Homo sapiens: one gene and its partner. The protein of the gene in region 1 purifies or fractionates together with the protein of each later gene. This does not show direct contact. Each region holds a gene or a part of one and is shown in the gene's direction. Other genes may lie near its edges.

What was found.
Region 2: the proteins of SPA17 (region 1) and USP33 purify together in Homo sapiens (affinity purification with mass spectrometry; 2 studies listed by BioGRID and IntAct, with this or other methods). This does not show direct contact.

What each region holds. Positions count from the first base shown.
Region 1 is NC_000011.10:124,680,126-124,684,225, forward strand, and holds part of SPA17 (sperm surface protein Sp17), read left to right. Parts: intron 1-1,263; coding exon 1,264-1,334; intron 1,335-4,100. UniProt on the Homo sapiens protein: Sperm surface zona pellucida binding protein. Helps to bind spermatozoa to the zona pellucida with high affinity. Might function in binding zona pellucida and carbohydrates.
Region 2 is NC_000001.11:77,698,170-77,700,957, reverse strand, and holds part of USP33 (ubiquitin carboxyl-terminal hydrolase 33), read left to right. Parts: intron 1-2,788. UniProt on the Homo sapiens protein: Deubiquitinating enzyme involved in various processes such as centrosome duplication, cellular migration and beta-2 adrenergic receptor/ADRB2 recycling.

The sequences.
Region 1 (4,100 bases):
GAAGTATTGATCAAATTAGAGCATTACCATTTCACAACCCCTAAGGAAATGATCTAAGCAAGGATCATCAGGGGGCCGATAAAAATTATAAAAAGAGTAACCAGATATTATAAATTTTATGACAGAATTACACAGCACTACCAATCAAGTATACTTGCAGAAAAAAAATCAAACCGTCAAACCCGAATTAGATCAAACCTATACAGCTAGCTACCAGTTTACAGGAAATTCAAAGGCTGAAGAACTTGTTAAAAGCCACCATGGGGATAGTCAGAAACATCTGAACTGTGAAAAACTCCAAAGGGAAAATGACGTAATTTCATCAACAGATAAATTGCAAGGAAAGAATAGGGGCTGGGGGCTCTTCCTTTAAAAGAAATTTAAAAGACATACAAAGAGCTGTGTGTGCCCGTTTTCGGGGTCCTGATTTGAACCAACAAATAAATAGACAATGGAAGAAATTTGGATAGTTGACTGAATAGTTGAGGATATTGAGGAATTATTAATATTTTTAGTATTTTGAAGTATGATAATGGTGGTGTGGTTATATTTTAAAAGAGTATATATTGAGATACATTCTGAAATAAATAATTGTAGATAAAATAACAGGATGCAAGGGGTTGGGTTAAAAATAATCAGAAAAAAGTGCAGAAAAATAATCAGAAGAAAAGGTTATAAATAAAATAAATCATGGGTTGATCATTGAATCTAGACAGTATGCTCATGGGAGTTTGTTATCATATCTACTTTTTAAGTATTGAAATTTTTATAATATAAAGTTAAAGAAAAAAATTGTTTAAAAATAAATACCTCTGCTTGTCTGTGTCAACTGTCTACATAATATACTTCATTAAAAAAAATTTCTCCCATCTTTCACTTTTCCAGACTTTCTGACAACTTAGCATTTAGGTTTATACATTTTTCTGTGTTTACTAATACATGTTCTAAGTGTCTACATTTATATTTAAGTACTGGCATTTGTTCTTTTTCCCATTTTATTATAAATTTTATGAAGGCAGAAATTACGTTTTTAGTGCTTTTCTAAATATCCCCAAAGGCTCATCCAATGTTCAGTTGGTTATCATATGTTTAATAATCACTGGTAATGTCTGCAGTGCTACGCTATGCACAATGTCAATAAGATTTTGGACTGCCAGTAAAGAACCTGTAATTTGAAACAAGAAACTTACATTTGTGTCACTATTCTACATTTACCTTAATGAATTCAAATAAATCTGAAGTTCTTATATTTTTATTATTTAGAAACCAACTTTGATCCAGCAGAATGGGGGAGTAAGGTAGAAGACCGCTTCTATAACAATCATGCATTCGAGGTATGGTCCTTTGAAGCTGTTGGATTTGGCTATTTCTTCTCTCTGTCTACAGCTAGCAATTATTAGGCTATCCCCAGAATTGTGAGAATTATGTGAGGAGGCATCACAAATAACTTATTAAATCTTATTAAATTAAAATTTAATAAATCTTATTTTATTAAAAAGATTATTTATTAAAAAGATTTAATAAAAACTTATTAAATCTTATTAAAACTTATTAAATTAAAATTGTGCTGGGATTTTTTGCTGAGAATATTTTTCTAAAGTATCTGAGTCATGTACAGATATTTCACTTAAGTTTAATGATGAACAACAGGAAGAAGGTGCTTAAAAGTTATGAATAATTATTTCATCATTTATTCTTCAAATGTTTTCAGCATCACAGTGCTAAGCAATAGCAGGTACTCCACAAATAATTACTGAATTAATAGATGATATTTCGTAGACCAAAACACTATTAGTCCAATTATTTCATTATCATCGATATGATATTATTGATACAAAAGACCGGTTAGAATTAAAGGTGGTAATGGTGTAGTTTTCTCTATAAAGCTAGCTTTTTCAGAGTCTGAGCCTTTCTCTTTAGCAGCTTTACAAAGACAGCTTTCTCAACCAAGTTTCCTCAAAAAAATTAAGCCCTAAACCAAAGGCACTAATTGCATGTAAGGAATCAGTGTCCTGATTTGTATCTAGAATGGTTCTGGTTAGGTACCATCCTTGGGAGAATTGAGAAAAGAGCTTCTCAAAACATTCTCTGTGTTCCATGGTTCAGATAATGAATGCTGGTTGAGAAAGGCTGTGTGGAATCAGCATTATTGGCATCAACTGGAAACTTGATAGAAATTCAGAGTCTCACAGGAAACATGAAAAACAAGGAAGTATGACACCCCAGAATGAACACAACAGTTCTCCACTAATAGATCATAACCAGAATGAAATTCTTAAAGTCTCAGATAAGGAACTCAAAATACTGATTTTTAAATATGGTCAGTGAGGTGCAAGAGAAATCTGAAAACCAATACAAAGAACTCAGTGAAACAATTCAGGATATAAATGAAAAATTTTACAAGGTGATAGATTTTTATTTTTAAAAAAACCCTAACATAAATTCTGGAATTGAAGAATTTATTGAAGGAAATATAAAATACATTCAAAAGATTTAACAATAGACTAGACTAAGTGGAACAAAAAAATTTTAGAACTTGAATACAGGTCTGAAACAATCCAGTAAGACAAAAATAAAAAAGAATAAACAAAGCCTTTAAGACATTTGGGACAACATAAAGCAGCTGAATATTTGAATTATTGGTATCCGCAAGGACAAAAAGATCAGAAGGCTTAGAAAACCTATTTAATGCAATAATAGATGAAGACATCACAAGTCTAGCAAGAGATTTAAACATCCAGATATAGGCGGTGCAGTGATTCCCCAAATACAATGCAAAAAAAAAAAAAAAGTTTTCACCACAGCACATTAAAATCAAACTGTCTAAAGTCAAAGAGTGAATTCTAAAAACAGCAAGATGAGAACATCTCATCAACTGTGAGGGAAACCCGATCAGACTAATAACCGTACTTCTCAGCAGAAACCTGACAGGCCAGGAGAGAGTGGGATGATAATTCAAAGAGCTGGAAGAAAACAACTATCAGCCAGGAATTCTATATCCAGCAAAATTAACCTTCATAAATGAAAGAGAAATAAAGTATTTCCCAAACAAGCAAATGCCAAGGGCATTCGTCTGTACTAGGCTGGCCCTACAAGAAGTGTTCAAGGAAATCCTAAACTTGGAAGCAAAAAAATGGAAGTTAGCATCATGAAAACACAGGAAAGTATAAAACTCACTGTTAAAGCGACCACACAAAGGAGGAACAGAAATGAATCAAATGGGCCCACTACAGAATTCCACCAGTCCACAATGACAAACAGTAAGAGAAAAAGAAACAATGTATAAAATAACCAGAAAGCAATTAACAATAAGACAAAAGGAACAAAACTCCACATATCAATAATAACTTTAAACATATATGGATTAAATGCTCAACATAAAAGCTATAGACTGGCTGAATGGATTTCTTTAAAAAAAAAAAAAAAACATGATTCAACTATATGCTGCTAATAGGAAACTCACCTTACCTGTAAAAGCATTTAGACTGAAAGTAAAGAAGTGGAAAAAGATATTCCATGCCAACAGAAACCAAAAGCAAGCAGAAGTAGCTATAGTTACATTAGGTAAAACAGACTTTAAGTTAAAAACAGTAGAAAACAACAACAAACAAGTTTATTTTATAATGATAAAGGGATCAATTCAGTAAGAGGATATAACAATTGTAAATATATACACACCCAGCACTGGAGCAACCAGATTCATTAAAAAAAATTTCTATGTCTAAAGACAGAGGTAGACTGCAATACAATAATAGTGAGGGGCTTCAACACCCCACTCATAGCATTAGACAAATTATCTAAACAGAAAATCAACAAAGTAACTGATATCATTTGGCTGTGTCCCCACCCAAATCTCATCTTGAATTGTAGTTCCCATAATCCCCACATGTTGTGGGAGGGATGCAGTGGGAGGTAATTGAATCATGGGGGATGATGGTTTAATAAGGGGCTTTTTCCCCTTTGCTCAGCTCTCATTCTCTCTCCTGCCACCCTGTGAAGAGATGCCTTCCACCATGATTGTAAGTTTTCTGAGGCCTCCTCAGCCATGCAGAACTGTGAATCAATTAAACCTCTTTTCTTAATAAATTACCCAGTCTCAG
Region 2 (2,788 bases), on another chromosome or scaffold:
GGAGGCTGACGTGGGTGGATCACCTGACGTCAGGAGTTCAAGACCAGCCTGAAACATAGTGAAACCCTGTCTCTACTAAAAATACAAAAATTAGCTGGGTGTGGTGGCAGTCACCTGTAATCCCAGCTACTCAGGAGGCTGAGGCAGGAGAATTGCTTGAATCCACGAGGCGGAGGCTGCAGTGAACTGAGATCATGCCACTGTACTCCAGCCTGGGTGACAGAGCAAGACTTTGTCTTTAAAAAAAAAAAAAAAAAAAAGATTCTGATATGTGAAAAAGGCTGCAACAATATGCCTAGTTAAAGCTTTTTGTATTTATGTATTTACTTTTTAAAATTTTAAATTAATAGAGACAAGGTCTTAACCCTGTTGCCCAGGTTTAAGTACAGCAGCATGATTATGGCTCACTGCAGCCCTGAACTCTCAGCCCATGCGATCCTCCTACCTCCATCTCCTGAGTAGTTGGGACTACAGGCATGTACTACCACACTTGGCTAATTTAAAAATTATTTTTTACAATTATTTGTAGAGACATGGTCTCACAGTGTTGCCCAGGAACTCCTGGGCTCAAGCAGTGCACCAACCTTGGCCTCCCAAAGTGCTGAATTACTGAGTTCTCTCTGTATTGTCCAGGCTGGCCTCAAACTCCTGGGCTCCAGCGATCCTCTTGCTTCAGCCTCCTGAGTAGCTGGGACTATAGGTGCACACCACCATATCTGGCTTTTCTACACCTTTAAAAAAATTTATTTTTATTTTGTAAGTTCCAGCATACATGTGCAGGATGTGCAGGTTTGTTACATAGGTAAACATGTGCCATGGCGATTTGCTCCACCTATCAACCCATTACCTAGGTATCAAGCCCAGCATGCATTAGCTGTTTTTCCTGTTGTTCTCCCACCCCTCATCCCTCAACCCCCACCAACAGGCCCTAGTGTGTGTTCTCCTCCCTGTGTCCTTGTGTTCTTGTTGTTCAGCCCCCACTTATAAGTGAGAACATGCAGTGTTTGGTTTTCTGTTCTTGCATTAGTTTGCTGAGGATAATGGCTTCCAGCTCCATCCATGTCCCTGCATAGGACATGATCTCTTTCCTTTTTATGGCTGCGTAGTATTCCATAGTGTATATTTACCACATTTTCTTTATCCAGTCTATCATAGATGGGCATTTGGGTTGATTCCTTATCTTTGCTATTGTGAATAGTGCTGCCATGAACATATGTGTGCATGTATCTTTATAATAGAATGAATTGTGTTCTTTTGGATATATACCCAGTAATGGGATTGCTGGGTCAAATGGTATTTCTGGTTCTAGGTCTTTGAGGAATTGCCACACTGTCTTCCACAATGGTTGAACTAATTTACATTCCCACCAACAGTGTAAAAGTGTTCCCATTTCTCCACAGCCTCGCCAGCATCTCTTGTTTCTTGACTCTCTCTTTTTTTTGAAAAAGAGGCTCACTTTGTCACTCAGGCTGGAGTGGAGTGGCGTGATCTCAGCTCATTGCAACCTCCTCCTGGGTTCAGACGATTGTCCTGCCTCAGCGTCCTGAGTAGCTGGGATTACAGGTGCCGCTGTCATGCCTGGCTAATTTTTCTATTTTTAGTAGAGATGGGGTTTCACCATGTTAGCCAGGTTGGTCTCAAACTCCTGATCTCAAGTGAGCCACCTGCCTCGGCCTCCCAAAGTGGTGGGATTACAGGCATAAGCCACTGGGCCCAGCCTGTTTCTTGACTTTTTAATAACTGGCATTCTGACTGATGTGACATGGTATCTCATTGTGGTTTTGATTTGTGTTTCTCTAATGATCAGTGATGTTGATCTTTTTTTCATGTTTTTTTGGCCACATAAATGTCTTCTTTTGAGAAGTGTTCATGTTCTTTGTCCACTTTCTAATTGGGTTTTTTTAATTGTAAATTTGTTTAAGTTGCTTTTACAACTTTTGATGATGACCATGCGGTTCACTTTTGCCTTAAATTTTAAAAAGAATGTATTTAAACGGTTTCTTTTATAATGCTTTTATTGTTCTTAATGTTACTTTGATAATCTGAAGCAAATTAATTGTATAATTTCTTTCAAATTACAAAGGAATTGCTATTTTATAGCATTAGTGGTACATTTTGACTTGTAATCCCCAAATGGAGAGTTAAAAAATAATTTCTGGGCCGGGCGTGGTGGCTCATGCCTGTCATCCCAGCACTTTGGGAGGCCGAGGGGGGTGGATCACGAGGTCAGGAGATCAAGACCATCCTGGCTAACACGGTGAAACCCCATCTCTACTAAAAATACAAAAAATTAGCTGGGCGTGGTGGTGGGTGCCTGTAGTCCCAGCTACTCGGGAGGCTGAGGCAGGAGAATGGCATGAACCTGGGAGGCGGAGCTTGCAGTGAGCCGAGATGATGCCACTGCACTCCAGCCCTTGGCAACAGAGCGAGACTCCGTCTCAAAAAAAAAAAAAAAAACAAAACATTTCTGTTAAACTGTGATGGTTGTGAACGAGCCTCTCTTACCTTCTTTCCTGGTTCTGTTTTGGGGGAACTAAGAACTAAAAACGAAGAAGCTCAGGAGAAGACATTAAGAATTAACCATAGGCCAGGTGTAGTGGCTCACGCCTGTAATCCCAGCACTTTGGGAGGCTGAGGTGGGTAGATCGTGAGGTCAGGAGTTCGAGACCAGCCTGACCAACATGGTGAAACTCCCATCTCTACTAAAAAAAAAAAAAAAAGCAAAAATTAGCCGGGCGTGGTGGTGTGTGCCTGTATTCCCAGCTACTCAGGAGGCTGAGGCAGGAGA